Regions from separate parts of the Homo sapiens genome. Here region 2 is linked to region 1. Evidence: fine-mapped expression QTL. A gene starts in region 1. The other region holds a variant in brackets. All regions are shown on one strand. Distances are between the middles of the regions.

Evidence for each region. PIP is the estimated chance that this variant, and not a neighbour inherited with it, causes the effect.
Region 2: its variant is the best candidate, but not a certain one, in a credible set for the expression of SGO1-AS1 in testis (GTEx, PIP 0.64).

What each region holds. Positions count from the first base shown.
Region 1 is chr3:20,170,326-20,178,325 of GRCh38, forward strand. SGO1-AS1 (SGO1 antisense RNA 1) reads left to right here and starts at 3,961. Exons shown (of 4, transcript NR_132785.1): 1 at 3,961-4,200; 2 at 4,410-4,493; 3 at 6,892-6,925. It overlaps SGO1 (shugoshin 1), which reads right to left. Exons shown (of 8, transcript NM_001199251.3): 4 at 7,946-8,000; 5 at 6,276-6,334; 6 at 3,924-4,730; 7 at 718-907; 8 at 1-490. The coding sequence ends at 379.
Region 2 is chr3:20,339,742-20,357,108 of GRCh38, forward strand. It overlaps LOC101927829 (a long non-coding RNA gene), which reads left to right and starts at 2,727. Exons shown (of 5, transcript NR_110814.1): 1 at 2,727-4,295; 2 at 5,919-6,041; 3 at 6,284-6,325; 4 at 8,256-8,348; 5 at 10,974-11,187. The variant T/G (reference allele first, on the strand shown) is at 8,348.

The DNA.
Region 1 (8,000 bases):
AGGCGGAGGTTGCGGTAAGCTGAGATCGTGCCATTGCACTCCAGCCTGGGCAACAAGAATGAAATTCCGCCTCCAAAAAAAAAAAAAGATATATTTCGACTAAAATTAAGAGGTTTAGGCAGCATAAGAAATCGATATGATGATAATGCTTAAGCTCAGTTATTTATATTCAAAAGAAAAAATAAATTAAATTTATTAAAGTTTTAATACAAAGCATCCCATTTGAAGTATAGTTCTGAAGAAATGTTTATGAGCTAGGGTCCTGTCAAGAGAATATTCTATGGCAATGGCTCACTCTGTTTGTGTACTCTTACAGATCCTCTCCTGAAGCAACAGAAAGAGGTGTAGATTGAATTTAAACAATATCCAACAAAACCTTCATTGTATTTGTTTCATACTTTTTTTAGAACGTCTCAAATCCTTTTTCTGCTTGAAAATAGGAGAATTCAAAAAACACAAATCTGTAAAAGGGTCCCCTCTTCTCAGTTTCCTGTAAGAGTAAAAAGAGATCTCAGGCATAATGTAAGCATCCCAATATTAACTTACTCTTCCCTACCAAGTTATGGTAAAACACACCAATTTTAAATGTTCTCACTTCAGTTTTTTTAAATCAAATGTTTATATTTCAGAAAAAACTCATTCTTGAACAAAGCTCCATAACCTTATTCCCCCCGACATGTATCATTAAAAATAAGTTCCCACAAACCAAATACTTACGAAGCGAGGGTGGGCTCCTTATAGTTCACGCTGGCTGTGCACCTACGTTTAGGCAGAGCCACTGCTGGGCTTGCTTTATTCTTTTTTGGAGAAAGAGAAAGTCTTCTGATTTTCACAACAGGATACAAGGAGACATTGGTGATATCCTTCAGGCTAAGATGAGGTGACTGCTGAGTTTCAGGTGGTGTAGCTACAAAACAATTTTTACTGAATATGATTTAAAAAAAAAAACCCACACAAAAACTTAAATTGTACTCAATTGTATATATCTTAACTGTACACAAAATCCAGCATTTAATAATAGAATTTTTTTTTAGATGGGCTCTCACTGTGTTGCCCAGGCTGAAGTGCAGTGGTGTGATCTCAGCTCACTGCAACCTCTGCCTCCTGGTCTCAAGCAATCCTCCCACTTCAGTCTTCCAAGTAGCTGGGACTACAGGTATGCACCACCATGCCCAGCCAATAATAAATTCTTTTTTTAGCTTTTTCATCATTTTTTCCTCTTCCTTTCAAACCAGACAGTGTTGAAATATTAATTATAACAGAACACTTTACTAAAACTTAAAATTCTTCTAGGATAGCTTGGGCATAATAACTTTGTTTAACCATGGAATTTCATTTTAGTCATACCTTGCTATTTGGAATCAAGTCCTCTCTCTTTCAATACCAAGGTTTATTATCAAGTCTCTTCCTATAGTCTTATAAAGCCGCTAAAACTCCTTCTATTAAATAAATGAGAATTCTAAATAACAGCCTCTGTGTACACCAGGAGAAAAGCTAGCATGTAAAAAAGTTACTCAGTGTTTTTCCCATCATAAACATCCAAGTTATTATACTTTGAAGTTACACCTATATTGGGAGGCAAATGTCCAACACATAGTAAAGACACTGCAAAACAATCTCCTCAAATAGCTTTAAAAAGCAAACTGTATCCCCAAAAAAGTAAAAACTATAACTGTGAAATGATTGTATACTAAGAGCCATATGCTCCAGTGTTATCTGGGTTTTATAGTCTGTCCTTTTTGTTCCCACATAAATATACTGTACTGTATTAATTATTCCAACTTTCAGTTTGAGAAATATGTTGTTTGGAACAATATCAGATCAGTTGCTATATTCTGGAAAAATGCTTCTCAAACTTTAATGTGTATATGAATCCACAGGAGGACTTCTTAATGGCCAGGCACGGTGGCTCACGCCAGTAATCCCAGCACTTAGGGAGGCCGAGGTGGGCGGATCACCTGAGGTTGGCAGTTTGAGGCCAGCCTAACTAACATGGAGAAAGCCTGTCTCTACTAAAAATACAAAATTAGCTGGGCGTGGTGGCACATGCCTGTAATCCCAGCTACTCGGGAGTCTGAGGCAGGAGAATCGCTTGAACCCAGGAGGCGGAGGTTGGGATGAGCTGAGATCGTGCCACTGCACTGTAGCCTGGGCAACAAGAGTGAAACTCTGTTTCAAAAAAAAAAAAAAAAAAAAGATGCAGATTCTGACTCCACGGTATGGGGTATGGCCTGAGATTCTGCATTTCTTAAAAGACGTCTAGGGATTAAACTCTGAGTAATACCATTTTAGAGTATATTTTTTTCGTTTAAAAACGTATTTTTTATGTATTTTATGTATTTTTATGGATACAGGCTCACACATCTGTAATCCCAGCACTTTGTAAGGCCAAGGCAGGAGGACTGCTTTAGCCCAGGAATTTGAGACCACCCTGGCAACACAGTGAGACCTCATCTTCACAAAAAGTAAAAAAAAAAAAAAAAAAAAAAAATTAGCCAGGTGTGATGGCGCATGCCTGTAGTCCCAAGTACTGGGGAGGCTGAGGTGGAAGAATCACTTGAGCCTGGGAGGTTGAGACTGCAGTGAGCCATGACAGTGCCACTGCCCTCCAGCCGAGGTGATAGAGCAAGACCCTGTCTCAATTAAAAAGTGAACAACAACAAAAAAATCCCAACTTTTTCTGGACATTTTTAAATGTACACAAAGATGGCAATAACAGTATAATAAACTCTGAGTTACCCAGGTCCAATAATTATCAACACTTTGACAATCATGTTTGATTTATTCTAACATCATTATAGCATTTTTGCTTTTTTTTTTTTTGAGACTGAGTTTCGCTCTTGTTGCCTAGGCTGGAGCGCAATGGCATGGTCTCGGCTCACTGCAACCTCTGTTTCCTGGGTACAAGCAATTCTTTTTCTCCTGCCTCAGCCTCCCGAGTAGCTGGGATTACCGGCACATACCACCAGGCCTGGCTCATTTTTTTGTATTTTTAGTAGAGATGGGGTTTCACCATGTTGGCCAGGCTGGTCTTGGACTCCTGACCTCAGGTGATCCGCCCACCTCAGCCTCCCAAAGTGCTGGGATTACAGGCGTGAGCCAACCCGCCCGGCTTACAGCATATTTTTAAAAAAGATACTTGCCTGCTACCACTGACTAACTGGCCGATTTAGAAAGTTGGTTTGGTTTTTAAGGTTTTAATCTCCTTACAAACAAAATAAGCATCATAACACCTATACTTCACAGAATTGTTCTGAGGATCAAATAAAATGATGTGACAATATTTTGAAAATGATACAACTTGACTATAAATGTTAGTTTTACTTGTATTAACTAAAATTGCCAAATGAGAATCTTTGTGGACAGGTGTAGGTTGTATTACGAACATTTGAACTATGCCTACTTTTGATCTAATAAAATATTTTCTGAGCCAGTTTTTAGAGATGTCGTACAAAAGAATACTAAGCCTATCAATTGAGGAAATCTTCACTAACTAGAAGATTATTTTAAATCACGGTTCCTGTCAAATTTAATATAAAACAAGGCCATTAAAATAACAAGTCACTGGATTCAAATTTGATTTCACTTTCAAGGGGATACTTCAGTTAAGTGTATAAAAGCTACTTCAATTCAACCTAAGTCTACAAAAAAGTCCCTCTGTCCCCTTGGGAGTCCTAATTTACTGAAAATAAAAATTCTGTCTCCATAACAAGCAATCTCTGAATTAGGTCAGAGCAATACAACTGTGATTTCCACACCCAGCCCCCCACTGTTTAATCAGACCATAACTTCCACCAAAGAGAGACAGATGGTAAGTCTCCAACCTCCACCAGAGAAACAGATGGTAAGTATAGTATATAAGCATCAGGAGTGATCATTTATCACGAACATTAAAAATACAGGTAAACAAGTAGATCACTTACTGGTAGGAGTTTTTGTTGGCTTAGAACCCTCCGTCTCTTTTTCATCTGTGTATTTCAGTGCTCTTTTAGCTAGAGGCCTGGTGACTGGTCTATCTGAATTGCTCGTGGGATTCTGAATGTACTTGCAAGTGGGCAAATAGAGGTCATCGGAATCATCTCCTGAACCACTTGATTCACAGAGGCTCACTTCAGACTCGTTGTTTTCTTCTCTATTAGAGTCATTGCTCACTTTTTGTCGGAAAGGAGTAAGATGAACACCCTCTTCCAAATTAAAATTGTAAGCATCATTGGAACTGACAGATTTGTGCATTTTTTTTTGGGGAACAGTTTTTTTATTTTCGCTTTTATTCTCTTTATATTTTGACATACGTTTTGATTTTCTCCTGTTAGCTTTTCTTTTCTCTTCTCTTTTTCTTTCTTGTGTATCTCTTTGCTTACTTTTAGTTTGTTCAGATTTAGATTCTAAAATGTCTTCTTTTGTTTTAGTAAACGTTCCTGGCTGAATCAGCTTTGGTGATAAGTTAACTTGGTCCTTGCTCCATTGACAAGCATTGTGTTGTACATTTTCAGGTATGTGCATGTTTACTAGTGGGTCTAAAAATCCAACTCTTTCGAATTCAAAAGACTTCCCTGCCAAATGACTGGTTTCAAAATCATCCAAGCTATCAAACTGACATATACTGTTACAATGTTTCTTTAAACTGCTACGAACAGATACAGTTCTAGGTAAGACATTATCAGTAGACTTAGCTTCACCTGAATCAAAATCAACTCCCAGTGTGTCTTGAGGAATAGTAGGTATCTGATCTGAGAATTTAAAAAATAAATGAGAAAAGTAGTTTTACTTTGTGGAAATTTGAATTTCAAGAACTTTAGAATTCAAACTAAAAAAGTGAATGACCAAAAGGTCATTCTGTAGTTTTCCTACATTATAAAATCTGTAAATAAAAACCTGGGAACTTAAATATTACCATCTATTTACTTGTCAGTGATCAACTGATGGCTTATATCTGACATGTGAAAGAATCTTGTACAGGTTCAGTATCCCTAATCTGAAAATCTGAAATCCAAAACTTTTTTAGTGCAGTCATGATGCTCCAAGGAAATGCTAACTGGAGGGTTTTGGATTTCAGATTTTCAAATTAGGGATGATGAACTGATATAATGTAAATACTCCAAAATTTAAAAAATAAATCCAAAACACTTCTGGTCCCAAGCATTTTGGATAAGGGACATTCAATCTTTATAATCTTTAAAAACATTATAGGCCAGGCACGGTGGCTTACGCTTGTAATCCCAGCACTTTGGGAGGCCGAGGCGGGCAGATCACGAGGTCAGGAGATCGAGACCATCCTGGCTAACACAGTGAAACCCCGTCTCTACTAAAAAAAATACAAAAAATTAGCCAGGCGTGGTGGTGGGTGCCTGTAGTCCCAACTACTCGGGAGACTGAGGCAGGAGAATGGCGTGAACCCAGGAGGCAGAGCTTGTAGTGAGCTGAGATCGCACCACTGCTCTCCAAGCCTGGGCGACAGAGCAAGACTGTCAAAAAAAAAAAAAATTATAACAGGCTTTTATGTGCTCTTGGTTTAAAGAAAATGAATAGTCTATATGTATCATTGAGTACAGATTCAGAGAAGTAGAACCGCATATTCCAAAGTGGGACAAATGAGAAAGTGGGAGCTAAGTTGTTCTTTGAAAAATAAATAAGATTTGAATAACTAGAAAGCTTCTCAGGTAAGAAATATAATTTGTATTTTAAGGAAAAGTGGGGCTATGTCTGGTTTTGCTTATTCAAATACTATCCTTCCTTCGACGTCTGGTTTTGCTTATTCAAATACTATCCTTTCTTCAATGCTTGGTTCAAGTGGAGGAGATTGACACTTGAGAACATGGACATATCAATTTAAAAGTAGTAAGAAAGGGATGGCTTTGGAGTTCAACTTTGATTTTAAATGCTAGCTGTTAACATCTAGACTTCTTCATGTGAGATATTTTACCTTCTTGAGTTCCTATAAAACAGGACTAACTGTACTTATAGTCCTAGGTTGTTGTGAGGGTTAGGTGAGATTATGCACATAAAATGCCTAACATAGAGCTTGACACGTAGTAGCAATCAGTAAATTGCTGCCATAGTTATAGCCAAAGATTCAGATTACAGATTTGACACAATAAATATATTTTAACACTCTATTACTCTGTGTAAAATAAACAGATTTGCTTTGAGCAGAATACCAGATGAACAAATTTAAAAAGTTAAAAAAAAAGAATTAGATAAATTTAATTGTATTATTTGTTCTCAAAGACCTTATTTTGCCCTTAATAATATTTTTAGATTTTCACTTGAATTACCTTCTATTTGAAATGATTCTCCTTGTCCTGGAAGTTCAGTTTCTTCAAGAGGAATTTGCCTTAGAAAATACCAATGAAAAACAGAAATTTAACAATTATGTAATAAAAACAAATTCAGTATTTTCCTAAATTATAATTTTTCTTTCCTTTAGTATCATTTCATAATTCGATTTCAAATCAATACATCTATTCTGTATCAAAGGAAACCAAAGGACACTTATGCTGATTACAGGGAGACTGATTTGTTATGACTGACATTCAATTCCCACTTGAAGAACCAACCTATCAAGTTGGAGAGTTCCACCTGAAAACACATTATATAACTCAATTTAACTACGGAAACAGCCCATGAGAATTAATTTGTTAAATGTTTTTTAAAAAATGTAGTTTGATCACTCAACTCTTTAGGAGCCTGCTTTATCATTAGCAGAGCTGTGATTTGTTGGTAATATATGCTTTTATGGTGCTTAACTATTGAACTCTTCTGAAGTTAACATTGTTCATTTTCTTTACAAATGTTGTTCTTTGGTTCATGAAACATGAAGTGTTCTTTATACTCTAACACTATTACTGGCAGTTTCATTCTAATTGTAATTTTATTCTTTATTCTCTGTAGAGAATTTTCTACTCTAGACATTAAACAGATTTAGGTAAGTAATGGCTGTGGTAAATAATAACTACTTTAGAAATCTTCTACAAATTCAATTACCTTATCTTACCTTTTGCCCACAACAGATCTTAAAGTACAACAGTTTAAAAACTACTAATGATTAAAAGTAATCTATGGTGATAGAAATCATCTTAGTGGTTACTTCTGTGGAGAAGGGGATGGACTTGATAGGCATACGAAAGAACTGTCTATGGCAGTAGTTCTCATCCAAGGGCAATTATGCTCTCCAGGGAACATGCCACAATATCTGAAGTCATTTTTTGTTCTCCTGATGATGTTACTGGGATTCACTGGGTGGAGGCTATGGATGCTGCTAAACATCCCATCATGCACAGACAGCTCTCTACAACAAAGAATTATCTGGCCCACAATGTTAACAGTGAAAACACTATGTCTTCATTGAAATTTTAGTTCCACGATATATACATTAGTCAAACTCATCAAATTGTAACTGTGATCTGTGCATTTTACTGTTTATAATTAAATCTTAATAATTCATAAACAAACAAAGTACATTTGATCCAAGAGAAGGGGAGGAGGGTATATGGGATCTAGAAAAATGAACTGGATCAGCGAGACAATGGGACAACTGTGTTAAATATGATATTTTATTTATTTATTTATTTATTTATTTTCTGAACCAGACTATTCAGAGGGCTGGCAAAACATCTCATTTCAATAGCTAATCCTTCTTAGAATAAAAACATGGTACACAGAAAAGTATGACTGAAGGAAAGTATGAAGTAGAATTAAAAACTGTGGTAAGGCTTCTTTTTCCTAGGCATCAAAAAAGGAGTGAAATATAAGAAAAAGAAGGGTTTAGCTTGGCTATATGTAATAGAATTTCAACACATCAAATTCTCTTAAATATATTCTCAGTAGAGAAAGCAACAGACTACAAATATAAGAGTTGACATGATGCACATTTCCTTTCATAAATGAATCACAGAATTAAACCTTTCTTAGTATTAATAATCATGATAAAGAATTTGATACTAACGGTAAATCCTTCACAAATAAATTTCTGGAGCTGTCATCACTATTGGGGTCCATTC
Region 2 (17,367 bases), 170 kb after region 1:
AAACACACTCTTTTTCTTTTGCCAGGTCCATTTCTGGCATGTATGGAATGAATCAGTGTGCCATCCTTTTAAGGCCCATTCATTGTCTTCTGGTTTTATTTTACGTCCATTTCTTCCTCTTACTAGAGAAAACAATTGAATTTTGTGGAAGCCCCAGGGGTTTGTGAATTTCAGAGGGACAGGGTTTTACCTGGAAAGAGAAAGGATTTTTGATTGAAAATAGAGGCTACTTATGACTCATTCAAAGGAGTTTTTCCTCTCCTTCATCTTATTTGCCTAGTGATTTTGTCTTATATGACACTTTGGAGCCTACTGTGAGATGACTGCTTCACACTGGATCTTTTTCAAATATTTTTCAAGGACAAACATCCTTCCTACAGGTTTTCTCATCTGTAATGATTGTCTTGTCTGGGGATTGTATTCTGATTAATTCAACGTTAGCTTTCTCACTGCTTCAGTGGATTCCAAATTTGTCATAGTTAAAAAAAAATTCTCCTGGGAAGTTTTATAAAAGAAGTTGGTGAAGAGAGGGCTTAGGATTTATTCTGCTGACCAATCTTTAGAATGTGGTAGGGGACTGAGGCACACAAAAAAGAAAAATGGAAGGAATGCCCAATTCTTATGCATTCTCATAGGTCAGGCATAACTCAGGAGTTTTGCAGAAATTTCAGTGATTGTTGCTCACATGGAGGTTTTACCCTGCAGTCACCATCCAATTGAGCAAAAAGCAGTTAAAAGGATGCAATAAGGGATTCAGCCAGCAGAGGGCGGGAGAGCCACACCCAGTTGCTTGGACCAGTTACACACCTCCAAGCCAACTCGTTCTGAAGACACAAGCCTTTTTTTTGGTAAGCGTTTTGCTTTCACTAAGTCCCTTCTGACAGAATGGGCAAGAGTCAATCTGCCCGGAATTGAATACTGGCTGCACCATGCGCTAGCTTCATCATCTTTTTGTGCCTGATTATTTCTCATTGGAAAAATGGGAAAAGCATAGTCATGGTGAGGATGTCATAAGGGTGTTGCGAAGATGATGAAGTTAACTTATGTAACACATTCCAAACAGTGCTTGGTAACTACTTGATAAATATTATTTAATAGTATTATAGGCTATCCCTTTGCCTTCTGTCTTCCATCCTCCCAAGTCTGAATGCAAAAATAAATTAATATGGCAATAGGTTATGTGGGCTGATTCCTCTTCACTCTTTGAAACTCATCTCAAAAAGCGCAACATACCTTCGTGATATTTCTGCCAAAAATGCTTATGCCAAATCTAACCGCGAGAAACAGTTTAGAGTAGTTCCAAACCAGAGACATTCTACTAAATTCAGGGACATTTTTTTTTTTTTTTTTTTTTTGAGAGACAGAGTTTTGCTCTTGTTGCCCAGGCTGGAGTGCAATGGCACAATCTCGGCTCACCACAACCTCCACCTCCTGGGTTCAAGTGATTCTCCTGCCTCAGCCTCCCGAGTAGCTGGGATTACAGGTGTGTGCCACCACGCCCGGCTTATTTTGTATTTTTAGTAGAGACGGGGTTTCTCCATGTTGGTCAGGCTGGTCTCGAACTCCCGACCTTAGGTCGTCCGCTCGTCTCGGCCTCCCAAAGTGCTGGGATTACAGGCGTGAGCCACTGTGCCCAGCGTAAATTCAGGGACATTCTACTAAATAACTAGACTCTGCACTTTAAAAATTACAAGGTCATGAAAGACAAAGAAAGAATCTGAAACTGTTCCAGATTGTAGGATACTAAAGACACATGAAAGCTGAATGCAGCATATGAGCTGGGGATTTCTTCTGCTGTAGAGTACACATTGGGACAATTGGTGAAATTTGAATAAGGTCTGTAGATAAGATCGTAGTATTGTATCAGTATTGATTACCTGATTTTGTTACTTGTAGGCTACAGAAGAGAATGTCCTTGCTTTTAGGAAATATACACCAGAATCTTCAAGAGTAAATGGGGCATCATAATTTCTGTAAGTTACTCTCAATTTTTTTTTTTTTTTTTTTTTTTTTTTTTTTTAGACAGAGTCTCTGTTGCCCAGGCTGGAGTGCAGTGGTACGATCTTGGCTCACTGTAGCCTCCACACCCTGGGTTCAAGGGATTCTCCTGTCTCAGCCACCCAAGTAGCTGGGATTACAGGCGTGCACCGCCATTCCCAGCTAATTTTTGTATTTTTGATAGAAACGGGGTTTCACCATTTGACTAGGCTGGCTGGAACTCCTAGTCAGGACTTCAAGTGATCCACCCACCTCAGCCTCCCAAAGTGCTGGGATTACAGGCATGAGCCACCGCGCCCAGCCCCAAATTTTTTTTGAAAAAAGAAATGTATATTTGTGTGTGTGTGTTTGTGCGTGTATGTGCATATCTGTATGTAAGCATATTTGATATAATAGCATTTAGTACATCTGGTTAAAGGGCATATGAGAATTCTTTGTAGTGTTCTTGCAACTTTTGTTAGCCTGAAATTACATCAAAATACAAAGGTAAAAAATAAAACCATAAATAAAAAATACAATCCCAGCTCTCAGGATGCCTCCTTCTTTAATAGTTTTCCCTGATGTCCCCTGCCTTACCCTTTGCCTTAGGTGGGTTAGGAGCCCTGGCCCTGTGTGCCCTCAGTCTGTAGCTTCTCTCTCTGTCACAGCACTGTATTACACTGTATTGTGACCACCTGATTATGTCATTAAACTATGAGCTGGGACAAAGAAGGCAGGGGTGCTATCTCATTCAACTTTGTATCACCTGAGCTTAACTAACACCTGGCACAGAGAAGAAACATATTAAGGATTTGCTGAGAGAATAAGATAGTATAACTTGGTCTTATATCTAAGGTTTGATTTTCTAGGAACCTATAGTGAATTTTAGGCTTGCTTTTCAGTTTTTGTAGCAGGGATGTAGCACAGGTTTGGGACTCAGCACACCTAGTCTGAAAGCTGATTTCTGTCACAGCATGCATGAGGGACAGTCTCTTCAGTTTATTTATACCTTAGTGCTGTGATTCTCGAGCTTATAGACACTGTGAGGACAGAATTTTAGCTCTTTAAACAAAGGGGGGCAAATATACAGTGACCTCTATCTATGTAGGTATTTAACTGAAAGGAATTCCAGGGCCAAGTGTGTCTACTATTAAAAGAAACGTACTTTTCTTACAATGTAGTCCCTGAATGCAAATCATGGTTTTATCTGGTGGGCAACTGAAGAAACAGCAATCTGAACTGATATGGGAGGCAGACCTCACTGTAACAGGATTAGTGAGAAACAGTGTTTGTGGCTCTTAATTGCTCATTTTTTTTTTTTTAATGGGGGATGTTAGGGATTTTCTAAGGGCAGGTTTATCCATATGCAGAGTTGATGTTAGGATGTAATACCACAAAGATGTAATTAACTCCTCTGTTTGTGGTCTCCATGTTAATTCACTCTCATAAGAGGGTATGCAGTGTGGTCACTATTCTACCACCATTTTTAAGAAAAAATTTAAAACTATTTTTTATCTTCCAAATTAAATATTTTGCTATTTGATAAGTTAACAATGCAACAGAAAATCAATATAACTTTTATCTTTACCAGAAGCCATAAAAGTCTATCTAGGAAAATTTCAGATGTGTGAACATGGCTTTAGAGAAGGAACTCAACTACAGACTATAAGAAATGTAAAACCAAGCCAGGTTCCTGTTGTGGTCCTTTATTATGACCTGGTGACCTAAGCTAGAGAATCACAGCACTAAGGTATAAGTAAACCAAATAGCATGCATTGGCTTTAGTTCAGAAGGGGATTTTTGTGCAGAAAATAAATTGAAAGTAGGGCCTCTGGCCAGCATAAACAGATAAGAAAAAAGTATGATTCCCTACGTCTCAAAAATGACTCCTTCACACATCCCACCAATCAAAGATCCATTTGGAATAACAGGTCTTCTAAAAGCTGCCATAGAAGTTAAGCCTCCTACCACCTATACTTCTGTGTGAATTGATTTAGTCTGGAGGCATTTTGATTGCTTTTCTCCTAACACCTAACTTAGAAGGTGAAATAGAGGTCTTGTTTGGAGGGAATTGAAGAAGGAAAAGGAAAGGGCAATTTCAGATCAAGGGATATGTTGGAATGGTGGAAAAGTAGGATCATTAGGACAGCTGGGAACAGTCTTTTAGTTCTTGGAAGCCAGGAAAAAGATGTAGAGAGAAGGGCAGAAGTGGTCAAGGCTCCATGAAAAGGAGGATGTAGCAGTCAAATTGGATGTCGACCATGCAACAATGACGTCAGGAACCCTGCTTGGTATACCATCTGTACCTGTCTGTACAGGTCAGTTCTGTAACTGTCTGCCTCGAAGAATTGCCTGGCTTGTTTCTCTCAAAGAATGGACTCTAGCTTATCTATAATAGAATATACCTATGTTGGTGGTCAATAAACACTAATTTAATTAAACCTGTAATGCTTTTGAGACTTTTGCCATATCTTCTGTTATTTGGGACCTCACCACCTGGAACTTGATTTTGCAACAAAATTCAAAAAATACTTGGCCAAAACTAACTTCCCCTGAACTTGACAAATAAAATGAACAATTCAAGAACAGCCAACTGAGTAATTCTGGTATATAAACTGTCACTATTAAATGGCTTATTTATCGAAATAGCATTCAATCTTACATGGGCATTCAAGAATTTTAGGAGAGACAATGGATATTTCTCCAAACCCTAAAAATCCCATAAAGCAGGGGCAGCAGGACAGAAAGCTTTTATTCTTGTCAAAATCAATCTTGACTTTGGTACATCACAATGGCTGCATGACAATGTCACATTCTTGTCCACTTAGGTAAATGTGTTTGGCTCACTTGGCCATCATTCTGGAATTAAGAGCCTTTGCAGTATAAAACCAAGATTTGAATAACAGTAAAGGTCAGAGCTCAAAATTAGAAAGAAAAAAGACAAGAAATGGCTGATAGGAGGTTGGCACAGACATGAAACCTGATCATGCTGAAAGCACTTGGGGAGGGAGAGAAAAGGGAAACTTTGAATGAGTAATAGAGAATAGCATGGTGTATATACCATATTTGTAGATTTCTTAGTTATCTGTTGTATGGTTCCTTCTGACACCACTATAAATAACTTCCTGAGACTGGGTAATTTATAAAGAAAAGAGGTTTAATTGACTCACCATTCTTCATGGTTGGGGAGGCCTCAGGAAACTTACAATCATGGCAGAAAGGGAAGCAGGCATGTCTTACATGGCACGTGGAGAGAGAGAGTGAGTGTGAAGGAGGAACTGTCAAACACTTATAAAACCATCAGATCTTGTGAGAACTCACTATCATGAGAACAGCATGGAGGAAACTGCCCCCATGATCCAATCACCTCCCACCAGCTCCCTCCCTTGACACGTGGGGATTATGGGGATTACAATTTGAGATGAGATTTCGGTGGGAACACAGAGCCAACCAAACCATATAATCTGTCCTCTGCTCCTAGATTTTTCCCTTAAAAATGCTCAGGATAACTTATTAGAAGAAATGCCCTTTTAGGGAAAAATAAAAGTTTAAATCAGGCTGGTACATTCATTTATGGATCAGTCCAATTCACCTTATTCAGGTCTGCATCTTCTCTCCTTTGAATAGCTATGATCATCCTGTAACTGCTGATGCTGCCTCATTGCTCTGCTCCATTGCCTCACCCCAAGCTTTCAAAGTCATCTCCTACTCTACTCCAGGGTAATTTTTCTAAAATGCAAATACTGTTGTTTGGCAGCTCTACTTAAAAGCTTTTAGTGACTTTCTATTTTCTGTGGAGTAAGTCTCAAAGTACACAGCATTAGAACCTTTATATTCTACCCCTCCTACCTTATGTCTTACGATTTCCCATTGTTAATTTTAGCTTCACACAGTTTTACTAATTTATATCTCCAAATCTTTTTTTTTTTTTTTTGAAACAGAGTTTCACTCTTGTTGCCCAGGCTGGAGTACAATGGCATGATCTCGGCTCACTGAAACCTCTGCCTCCTGGGTTCATTCAAGCGATTCTCCTGCCTCAGCCTCCTGAGTAGCTGGGATTACAGGCATGCACCACCACGCCCGGCTAATTTTGTATTTTTAGTGGAGATGGGGTTTCTCTATGTTGGTGAGGCTAGTCTCGAACTCCTGACCTCAGGTGATCCACCTGCCTTGGCCTCCCAAAGTGCTGGGATTACAGGCATGGGCTACTGCGCCTGGCCTGTATCTCCAATTCTTTACATATGCCTGACGAACTGCTATTCCATCTTGTAGGGCTAAAATCAAATTTTTTTTCATTTTTGGGAAGCCTCCTCTACATACCTCCACCTTCTAACTCCAAGAAGTCAAAGTGAGTATATCATTGATGTTGCCACTTAATCTAGTATATATGTGTGTATTTGTGTGTGTGTGTATATATATATATGCACACACACACAGAGAAATATATTTCTATATATATTTCTAATATATAGTAGTTAGAAATACATATTTAATAAATATACAGTAGTTAGACATATATATATGTTAGTCATAATCTAACAGGAGATAAGTATATAAGCAGCTGCAATTAGGTTATTTTTCAAAATGTAGTTAGAAATATATATATGTCTACTATATATTATACATATTAAATATATATTTCTAACTACATTTTGAAAAATAACCTAATTGCAGCTGCTTATATACTTATCTCCTGTTAGATTATGACTTTCTTCAAAGTTGACACCTAATTTATTTTCATAGATCCAGGACATGGCATATAATAGGTGCTTGTTAATTGCTTTTTGGATGAATGAATGAATGAATGAACGAATGAAGGTTTCATGCCTAAATCTCTGGATTTAGTTAGTAGCTCAATGAGTAAAACTAAGGACTGTTTACTAGATATCAGCCTTTGCTTAGTTCTGAGCTATGGTAGTTGGAAAGTGAAGGAAATATTGGTTGGAAAGGAGAGTTTGGGTCAATGCAGACCTGAATCCATTTTTGAGAGAGATTAAATTTAGAAAACAAGCTGAATGGCAGAATGGTAGTTATTACTGAATAGGGGAGATATTCATGTTAGTATCAAAAAACATTGTTCAGTTAAGTAATATGAACGGGAAATTACTCTATTAGAGGAGGTCATGCTCTTGTTTTTGGGTAAGAATTAAATGTATTGAAATAGCAGGATTAGAGGAATATGAATTGGTCAGCAAGAAAACAAATGTTATGGTCAACAAGGTGCTTGAAGCTGCAGATATGGTGAAGAGCAAGGGACTCTGTGGCTGTGACATTCTGTTAACTATACTGAGAGGGAAAGGGAGACAGGGTGGGATCTGGGAAGAGTTTGTGCAGGCAACCAAGACTGCGATCACATTTTTTACTACACCAGGACTCCCCGTTCCCTAGTGTGGGGAAACCTTCCCACTCCATGCAGCAATGCCTGAGTGATGATGAGCAATAAAGGTTCATGAATTTTCTATTTATTGGTGCTATAGCAGCTGCTACAGTTAGAGGCTCACAGCTTGATACCTCAGCTGTACACAAGTTTCTGACCTAGTGTGTTGCTCTTTTGAAAAAATATTTTATAATGAAAATTCTCAGATATACAAAATAGATTTTGCTCATGTACCCATGACCTAGCTTTAACAAATATAAACATTTTGTGATCTTTTTTTCTGGCATTTTTAAAAGCAAATTTTAGACTCATTTTATGCTGTACATCAATATATCAGTATGGATCTCTAACTGATAAGGATATTAAAAATAATATAACCACCAAGATATTACCACATCTAGGGTTGCTCTTAATATGCTCAAGGACCCTGCTTCTCCCACCTGTCTTCCCTCTATCAGGCCGTATGTACTATTATTGGTTATGCCTATGTCATTGCCTTTCTGAGAGAAGAGTCTGCCACTACACCCATTTTTCTTGTGTTTGTAGACTCATCTTCCATTTGCAAAATATAATATATGAGGAATGAAGTTTTCTGGCTATTACCTTTGTCTAGCCTATACCTGATATCTGAATCAGCAGAAAGATGTATTCAATTTGTAACCTAATCAGGCTATTTCAAGCCATACCCCTCCCTGCCATGTAAAAAGGGTGCTCCTGACCTTTTTCTTTGAGCCAGGATCTTGCTCTGTCACACAGGCTGCAGTGCAGTGGTACGATCATAGCTCACAGCAGCTTCAAACTCTTGGGCTCAAGGGACCCTCCCTTCTCAGCCTCCTCAGTAGTTAGGACTACAGGCACATGTTACCGCGCTTGGCTAACTTTTTTTTTTCTTTTTATAAAGATGAAGTCTCACCATATTGATCAGACTGGTCTTGAAGTCCTGGCTTCAAATGATCTTCCCTCCTCAGCCTCCCAAACTGCTGGGATTATAGA[T/G]GTGAGCCACTGCACCTGGCCAAAAGGGTTCATTAAAAAAAAAAAATCTTAACTTTTTTTAGAGTTTTCAGAGACTTTCAAGCAGAGTAAATATGCCAAGTGTTTATAGTTGTGGAATTGCCTGTTCTGCCTGTCAGTTTTGGGGAGAATAAAGGAAGTTCATTCTCCTAGTGGCTTTCTGATGCAACCCAAGATGCTGGTGACCATTTTGATTGTTCTCTTTGCCCCTCTTTGCTACCAGAGAAGGTCAAATCCACTTATATGGGGTAGGATAAATCAACAGAGTGGATACAAAGAATTCTGGCCATCATGTGGCCAGGATGGCCAGATCTACTTGGCAAGCTAAAGCATGTATGTAAAGATTTAACTGTCCATAAGGCATTGAAGTTAAGTGTCCAAAGTTAAGGGTGTTCATGCTGTAGGCATTAAGAAGAGTGGAAGGCACTTCTAACTGGAAATAGTCCTAGGTTCTTGAAAGGAAGTGAAATTTCACCAGAACTTTGACTGCTGGTCACAACTCATAGATAATAAGGGGTTTGGGAGTGCGATGGGAAGAAAAACAGAGCAAGCAAAGCATAGAGAGGTGAAAGCACAAGGCAGGTGTAGGGAAGCACGGATAACATAGTGTAGCAGTCATTTGCGATGACTTGCATGGCATATCACCCCCTTCCCACCTAATTTAAGGTCAGGTGACTTAGACAATTCCATGCACATTGACAGTGTCCCAACTCAAGTGTTGACTATGATATTGCTCTGATTTTTGGCCTCAGGGCTTCCTCTGATGCCTACAAAGGCTGCTTAGCACCACAAAGACTGTCCATAAGAATGGCAGAGTCCATGTTTGTGGTGACAGCCTTCAACTAACGGAGGTGGAAGACAGTGGAAAATGTCCCAGAGTTGTCACAGGGACAATTCTGACATGCATTTTACATGGCTTCTCAGAGAGACCCACTGGGACTGAGTCTCATTGCCCACAGTTGTTACTAGCTCCACCATGCATCCTTGCATTGGCTGACCCTCTTCCCCTGTTCCACTTCTGTGACCCACGCTTCTGCTTGCTGAGAATTGTGAGAACCCAAACTAAGACATCGATTTTGGTAGAAATGAGAAAATATGCCAGGGAAACAGTGAAAAACAAATCCAGAATGACAGGTTTATAAAAAGACTTTCTTACTAATTAAAAAAAAAAGTCTATTTCCCTATTTGCTTTCTGCTTGCTTTTTTCTTGCTGTTATTTAGAAAAGTGAAAACGAAAACAATACTTTTAGATTACAATTCACATGGAACTAGGCTTGTCCTATAGTTTACAGTCCTTATGGATTCTGAGTTTAAGGATTCTGTCCCATTATCTTTCCTTATTGCAGTAAATGACAATCTATTCTTCCTGTTATTCAGGACAAAAATATTGGGGGGTAATCTCTGATTATTTTCTTATTCTTGCAACCCACTTCTGATCTGTCAGAAAATCCTGTTGGATCCACCTTCACAATACATGCAGAAGCTGGATGGCCATTTCTCAGTATCTTCACTACTACAGCTCCGGTTAGGCCACAGTTGTCTTTCACTGGGACTGTTGCAAGAGCAATCTGTTTAGTTTCACTGCTCCTGCCCTTAGGTCCCTACCATCTATTCCCAACAAAACGGGCAAAGTGATTCTCTTAAAATATAAGTCACACCACACCTTTCCAATACCCTGCACCCTCCTTTGATTCAGCTTTGAGTAAAAGCCAACGTTCTTACAATGACTGAGTAAATGCTGAAGTTTTGGCTTGGTCTTTCATCTCTTTCCTTCCTTGACCCTTTTTATTACTGCTTATCCCCTTGATTATTCCACTGCAGCCCGTGGGTCTCATGACTAAACTCCAACAGGCCAGCGTCCTCCCCACCCAGGCCAGCATTCTCCCAACTCGGGTCAGTGTTCTCCCAACTCTTTGCACTTATGTAATCTCACACTGGAGGGCTCCTCTCATCTCCCATAACCACATAGCTCACTCCCTCACCTCCTGGGCTGTTTGCTTACCTGTCATATTTTTAAGACAGTCCTTCCTTGGCTTACCTATCTGAAATTGAAGCACCTACGTGAACATATCCTTTCCTTTTCCCCTGCTTTATTCTTCCCTTTAGTATGTTTTACTATCTAATAAGCATGTATTTTATTCATGTACATTTTTTTCTTCCTTCCAGGAGGCAATCTCCATGAGGGCAGGTGTGTTTTCTTTTGGTGGGATCGGGAGAGGGGAGGTGTCTCTATTGTTCATTGTTCTCTTTCCTGTCCAGAATAGCATGTATACACCATGACGGCTAATTTTAGGTGTCAATTTGATTGGGGTAAGGGACGTCCAGATAGCTGGTAAAACACAATTTCTGTCTGTGTTTGTGACAGTGTATCTGGAAGAGATCAGCATTTGAATTGGGAGTCTGTGTAAAGAAAATCACCCTTACCAATGTGGATGGGTATTATCCAGTCTGTTGAGGCCATGAATAGAACAAAAGGGCAGAGGAAGGGCAAATTTGCTTCTGTTTAGTTGGGACACTCATCCTTTCTTGCCCTTGGACATTGGTGCACCTGGTTCTTGGGCCTTTTGACTCAGACTGAATCACACCACTGGCTTTCCTTGTTTTCCAGCTTGCAGACAACAGATCATGGAACTTCTTGGCCTCCATAATCTCATGAGCCAATTTCTGTAAGTCTCTCTGTCTCTCTGGAGAACCTTGGCTAATATACACACACACCATGATTGATAGTGGATGCCCAATAAATGCATTCCAAAATATATGGATGCCCAATAAATATGTGTAAGTATGAATACTCAATAAATAAACAAAAATGAAAGAACGGATATGTGACCTTACTTAGCTTCTCTGGGACTCTATTTAATCTCTCTGAAGCTCTGTATTTTTCAGCTGAAGATGGGGATCCAATACCTAACTCACAGGAGCAAATCAAATAATGTATTTAAAGACCTTAGGAGGGAAAAAAACCTCTCTCCTAAGGTCTTTGGATAAATGGCTGAACTACTACTTGTCAGAAGTTATGTTCTGATTTTTAGTTCAGAAACCGAAGTCCTGAGATTTCTATCTTAAACCATGGAAGGATACTTTTAGAAGCTTTATAATTGAAGTCTAAGATCATAAAAATAACTTATTTTCAATTTATTTTTCTAAGAAAAGCATGTGGGGCTCCCTTGGCATCTTTGACTTGTAGAAAGTGTAATATGGAGTTTCCAGACTAGAACACAAGCTCCATACAAAGAGGTACCTAATTATCTTGTAAGTTCCTAGTGACTGCACCTGTTGTATAATAGGTTCTCAATAAATATATGTTGAATGAATAAACAAAGAAAATGTAAAGTTTTTCCTCCATTTAAGGTGTCCCAATAGTGAAGCTGAGACCTAGCAAGATCTATGAACTGTTTCTTTCCTCTAATTTCAATTTTTAAACATTTTTGTGGGTATATAGTAGGTGGATGTATTTATGGAGTACATGAGATATTTTGATACAGGCATTCAATGTGAAATAAGTACATCATGGAGAATAGGGTATTCACCCCATCAAGCATTTATCCTTTGAGTTACAAAAAGTCCAATTACACTCTTTAAGTAATTTTGAAATGTACAGTTAAGTTATTATTGACTATAGTCACCTTATTGTGCTATCAAATAGTAGGTCTTATTCATCCTTTCTATTTTGTTTGTACCCACTAACTATCTCCACCACCCCACCAGCCCCCAACTACCCTTCCCAGCCTCTGGTAACTATCCTCTACTCTCTTTGTCCATGAGTTCAATTGTTTTGGTTTTTAGACCCCACAAATAAGTGAGAACATGTGGTGTTTGTCTTTCTGTGTCTGGCTTATTTTAGCTAACATAATGATCTCCAGTTCCATCCACGTTATTGCAAATGAAAGGATATCATTCTTTTTTTGGCTGAGTAGTACTCCACTGTGTATATGTACCACGTTTTCTTTATATATTCATATCTTGATTAACACAGGTTGTTTCCAATTCTTAGCTGTTGTAAACAGTGCTGCAACAAATATAGGAGTGCAGATATCGCTTCAATATACTGATTTCCCTTCTTTGGGGTATATATGCAGTAGTGGGATTGCTGGATCACATGGTAGCTCAATTTTTAGTTTTTTTGAGGAACCTCCAAACTGTTCCCCATAATGTTTTTACTAATTTATCTTCCCACCAACAGTGTATGAGGGTTCCCTTTCCTTCACCTCCTTTCCAGCATTTGTCGTTGCCTGTCTTTTGGATATAAGGCATTTTTACTAGGGTGTGATGATATCTTATTGTGGTTTTGATTTGCATTTCGAATGCAAATCAAATGGTGATTTGATATTGAGCACCTTTTCATATGTCTGTTTGCCATTTGTATGTCTTCTTTTGAGAAATGTCTATTGAAATCTTTTGCCTATTCTTTGATCAAATTATTACATTTTTTTCTATAGAGTTGTTTGAGCTCCTTACATATTCTGGTTATTACCCTCTTGTCAGATGGGTAGTTTGCAAACACATTCTCCCATTATATGGGTTGTCTCTTCACTTTGTTGATTGTATCCTTTTCTGGGAAGAAGCTATTTAACTTGCTGTGATCCCGTTTGTACATTTTTGCTTTGGTTGCTTGTGCTTGTGGGGTATTGCTCAATAAATTTTTGCTCAGACCAATGGCCTAGAGACTTTCCCCAATATTATCTTGTAGTAGTTTAATAGTTTGAGGTTTTAGATTTAGGTCCTTCATCCATTTTTATTTTATTTTTGCATATGGCAAGAGATAGGGGTCTAGTTTCATTCTTCTGCACATGGATATCAGTTTTCCCAGCACCGTTTACTGATAATGGACTGTTTCTTTCCCTCCAGCAAGAAGCCACAGATGTTGACTTCCTCCAGCGTTGCTGACTCACCCCTTCCCTGATCTTTCATTTGGGTTGTGTTCCTCCCTAGCAACTTTTCTGATGTGTTAATGTCATTCATTCTTAGCACATGACTGACCCAGCATCTGTTCTTTTCCTAATAGATGAAGTGCTGGGAGAGAAGGGTAGGTATTTACTATTTCCACTATATAACAGGCTTATCTTTAGGGAGTGATTGTGTAGATATCAAGAGGGAGAAAGAGAATGAATTTAGTGGAGGTTTTTGAGTTGTTTGTATAAAAGATTGAGCCCATTGAGCAGTGATTGCAAATGAGAGAAATGGTTATGTATACAGTTCTCCTGAAGAATAGAGAGCACCATCTACTATAAAATTTTAAAAAATCAAGTATCCCTCCCCAGGTGATGTTTCTAATTTTTAGAGAATAGTTGTTCTTACTCATGAGTAACATGTAGTATACAAATGCAGAAGTCTGTTAGTTTCGATGGTTGAATCTGGATTAGTTTCTTTTGCATTCCTAAGATTATAGTCTTAGTAAAACCAGCACAAAAATGTCTATACTGATGAGCATCTGACACTTCAGATCATTTGGATTTTTTCTGGGGCTGTGTGATGGTTGGAGGGTAAGGGGGTGGAAGTGGCTTTTAAAGAGGACCTATTAACTATAGATTTTGGAAAAACATATAATGATTTTGTTGTTTCATTTAATGTATACAAATTTACAAATAAAATATGGTTTCAAGTAAGCAGAAAAAAAACCATGACTTTCAAAATTAGCACTACACCTTTTTTTTTATTATTATACTTTAAGTTTTAGGGTACATGTGTACAATGTGCAGGTTAGTTACATATGTATACATGTGACATGCTGGTGCGCTGCACCCACTAACTCGTCATCTAGCATTAGGTATATCTCCCAATGCTATCCCTCCCCCCTCCCCCAACCCCACAATAGTCCCCAGAGTGTGATATTCCCCTTCCTGTGTCCATGTGTTCTCATTGTTCAATTCCCACCTATGAGTGAGAATATGCGGTGTTTGGTTTTTTGTTCTTGCGATAGTTTACTGAGAATGATGATTTCCAATTTCATCCATGTCCCTACAAAGGACATGAACTCATCATTTTTTATGGCTGCATAGTATTCCATGGTGTATATGTGCCACATTTTCTTAATCCAGTCTATCATTGTTGGACATTTGGGTTGGTTCCAAGTCTTTGCTATTGTGAATAGTGCCGCAATAAACATACGTGTGCATGTGTCTTTATAGCAGCATGATTTATAATCCTTTGGGTATATACCCAGTAATGGGATGGCTGGGTCAAATGGTATTTCTAGTTCTAGATCCCTGAGGAATCGCCACACTGACTTCCACAATGGTTGAACTAGTTTACAGTCCCACCAACAGTGTAAAAGTGTTCCTATTTCTCCACATCTTCTCCAGCACCTGTTGTTTCCTGACTTTTTAATGATTGCCATTCTAACTGGTGTGACATGATATCTCATTGTGGTTTTGATTTGCATTTCTCTGATGGCCAGTGATGGTGAGCATTTTTTCATGTTTTTTGGCTGCATAAATGTCTTCTTTTGAGAAGTGTCTGTTCATGTCCTTCACCCACTTTTTGATGGGGTTGTTTGTTTTTTTCTTGTAAATTTGTTTGAGTTCATTGTAGATTCTGGATATTAGCCCTTTGTCAGATGAGTAGGTTGTGAAAATTTTCTCCCATTTTGTGGGTTGCCTGTTCACTCTGATGGTAGTTTCTTTTGCTGTGCAGAAGCTCTTTAGTTTAATTAGATCCCATTTGTCAATTTTGGCTTTTGTTGCCATTGCTTTTGGTGTTTTAGTTGTGAAGTCCTTGCCCATGCCTATGTCCTGAATGGTAATGCCTAGGTTTTCTTCTAGGGTTTTTATGGTTTTAGGTCTAACATTTAAGTCTTTAATCCATCTTGAATTAATTTTTGTATAAGGTGTAAGGAAGGGATCCAGTTTCAGCTTTCTCCGTATGGCTAGCCAGTTTTCCCAGCACCATTTATTAAATAGGGAATCCTTTCCCCATTTCTTGTTTTTCTCAGGTTCGCCAAAGATCAGATAGGTGTAGTATGTGGCGTTATTTCTGAGGGCTCTGTTCTGTTCCATTGATCACTATCTGTTTTGGTGCCAGTACCATGCTGTTTTGGTTACTGTAGCCTTGTAGTATAGTTTGAAGTCAGGTAGCGTGATGCCTCCAGCTTTGTTCTTTTGGCTTAAGATTGACTTGGTGATGCGGGCTCTTTTTTGGTTCCAGATGAACTTTAAAGTAGTTTTTTCCAATTCTGTGAAGAAAGTCATTGGTAGCTTGATGGGGATGGCATTGAATCTATAAATTACCTTGGGCAGTATGGCCATTTTCACGATATTGATTCTTCCTACCCATGAGCATGGAATGTTCTTCCATTTGTTTGTATCCTCTTTTATTTTATTGAGCAGTGGTTTGTAGTTCTCCTTGAAGAGGTCCTTCACGTCCCTTGTAAGGTGGATTCCTAGGTATTTTCTTCTCTTTGAAGCAATTGTGAATGGGAGTTCACTCATGATTTGGCTCTCTGTTTGTCTGTTATTGGTGTATAAGAATGCTTGTGATTTTTGTACATTGATTTTGTATCCTGAGACTTTGCTGAAGTTGCTTATCAGCTTAAGGAGATTTTGGGCTGAGACAATGGGGTTTTCCAGATATACAATCATGTCATCTGCAAACAGGGACAATTTGACTTCCTCTTTTCCTAATTGAATACCCTTTATTTCCTTCTCCTGCCTAATTGCCCTGGCCAGAACTTCCAACACTATGTTGAATAGGAGTGGTGAGAGAGGGCATCCCTGTCTTGTTCCAGTTTTCAAAGGGAATGCTTCCAGTTTTTGCCCATTCAGTATGATATTGGCTGTGGGTTTGTCAGAGATAGCTCTTAGTATTTTGAGATACGTCCCATCAATACCTAATTTATTGAGAGTTTTTAGCATGAAGCGTTGTTGAATTTTGTCAAAGGCCTTTTCTGCATCTGTTGAGATAATCATGTAGTTTTTGTCTTTGGTTCTGTTTATATGCTGGATTACATTTATTGATTTGCGTATATTGAACCAGCCTTGCATCCCAGGGATGAAGCCCACTTGATCGTGGTGGATAAGCTTTTTGATGTGCTGCTGGATTCGGTTTGCCAGTATTTTATTGAGGATTTTTGCATCAATGTTCATCAAGGATATTGGTCTAAAATTCTCTTTTTTGGTTGTGTCTCTGCCTGGCTTTGGTATCAGAATGATGCTGGCCTCATAAAATGAGTTAGGGAGGATTCCCTCTTTTTCTATTGATTGGAATAGTTTCAGAAGGAATGGTACCAGTTCCTCCTTGTACCTCTGGTAGAATTTGGCTGTGAATCCGTCTGTTCCTGGACTTTTTTTGGTTGGTAAGCTATTAATTATTGCCTCAATTTCAGAACCTGTTATTGATCTATTCAGAGATTCAACTTCTTCCTGGTTTAGTCTTGGGAGAGTGTATGTGTCAAGGAATTTATCCATTTCTTCTAGATTTTCTAGTTTATCTGCGTAGAGTTGTTTGTAGTATTCTCTGATGGTAGTTTGTATTTCTGTGGGATTGGTGGTGATATCCGCTTCATAATTTTTTTTTGCATCTACTTGATTCTTCTGTCTTTTTTTCTTTATTAGTCTTGCTAGCGGTCTATCAATTTTGTTGATCCTTTCAAAAAACCAGCTCCTGGATTCATTAATTTTTTGAAGGGTTTTTTATGTCTCTATTTCCTTCAGTTCTGCTCTGATTTTAGTTATTTCTTGCCTTCTGCTAGCATTTGAATGTGTTTGCTCTTGCTTTTCTAGTTCTTTTAATTGTGAAGTTAGGGTGTCAATTTTGGATCTTTCCTGCTTTCTCTTGTGGGCATTTAGTGCTATAAATTTCCCTCTACACACTGCTTTGAATGTGTCCCAGAGATTCTGATATGTTGTGTCTTTGTTCTCGTTGGTTTCAAAGAACATCTTTATTTCTGCCTTCATTTCGTTATGTACCCAGTAGTCATTCAGGAGCAGGTTGTTCAGTTTCCATGTAGTTGGGCAGTTTTGAGTGAATTTCTTAATCCTGAGTTCTAGTTTGATTGCACTGTGGTC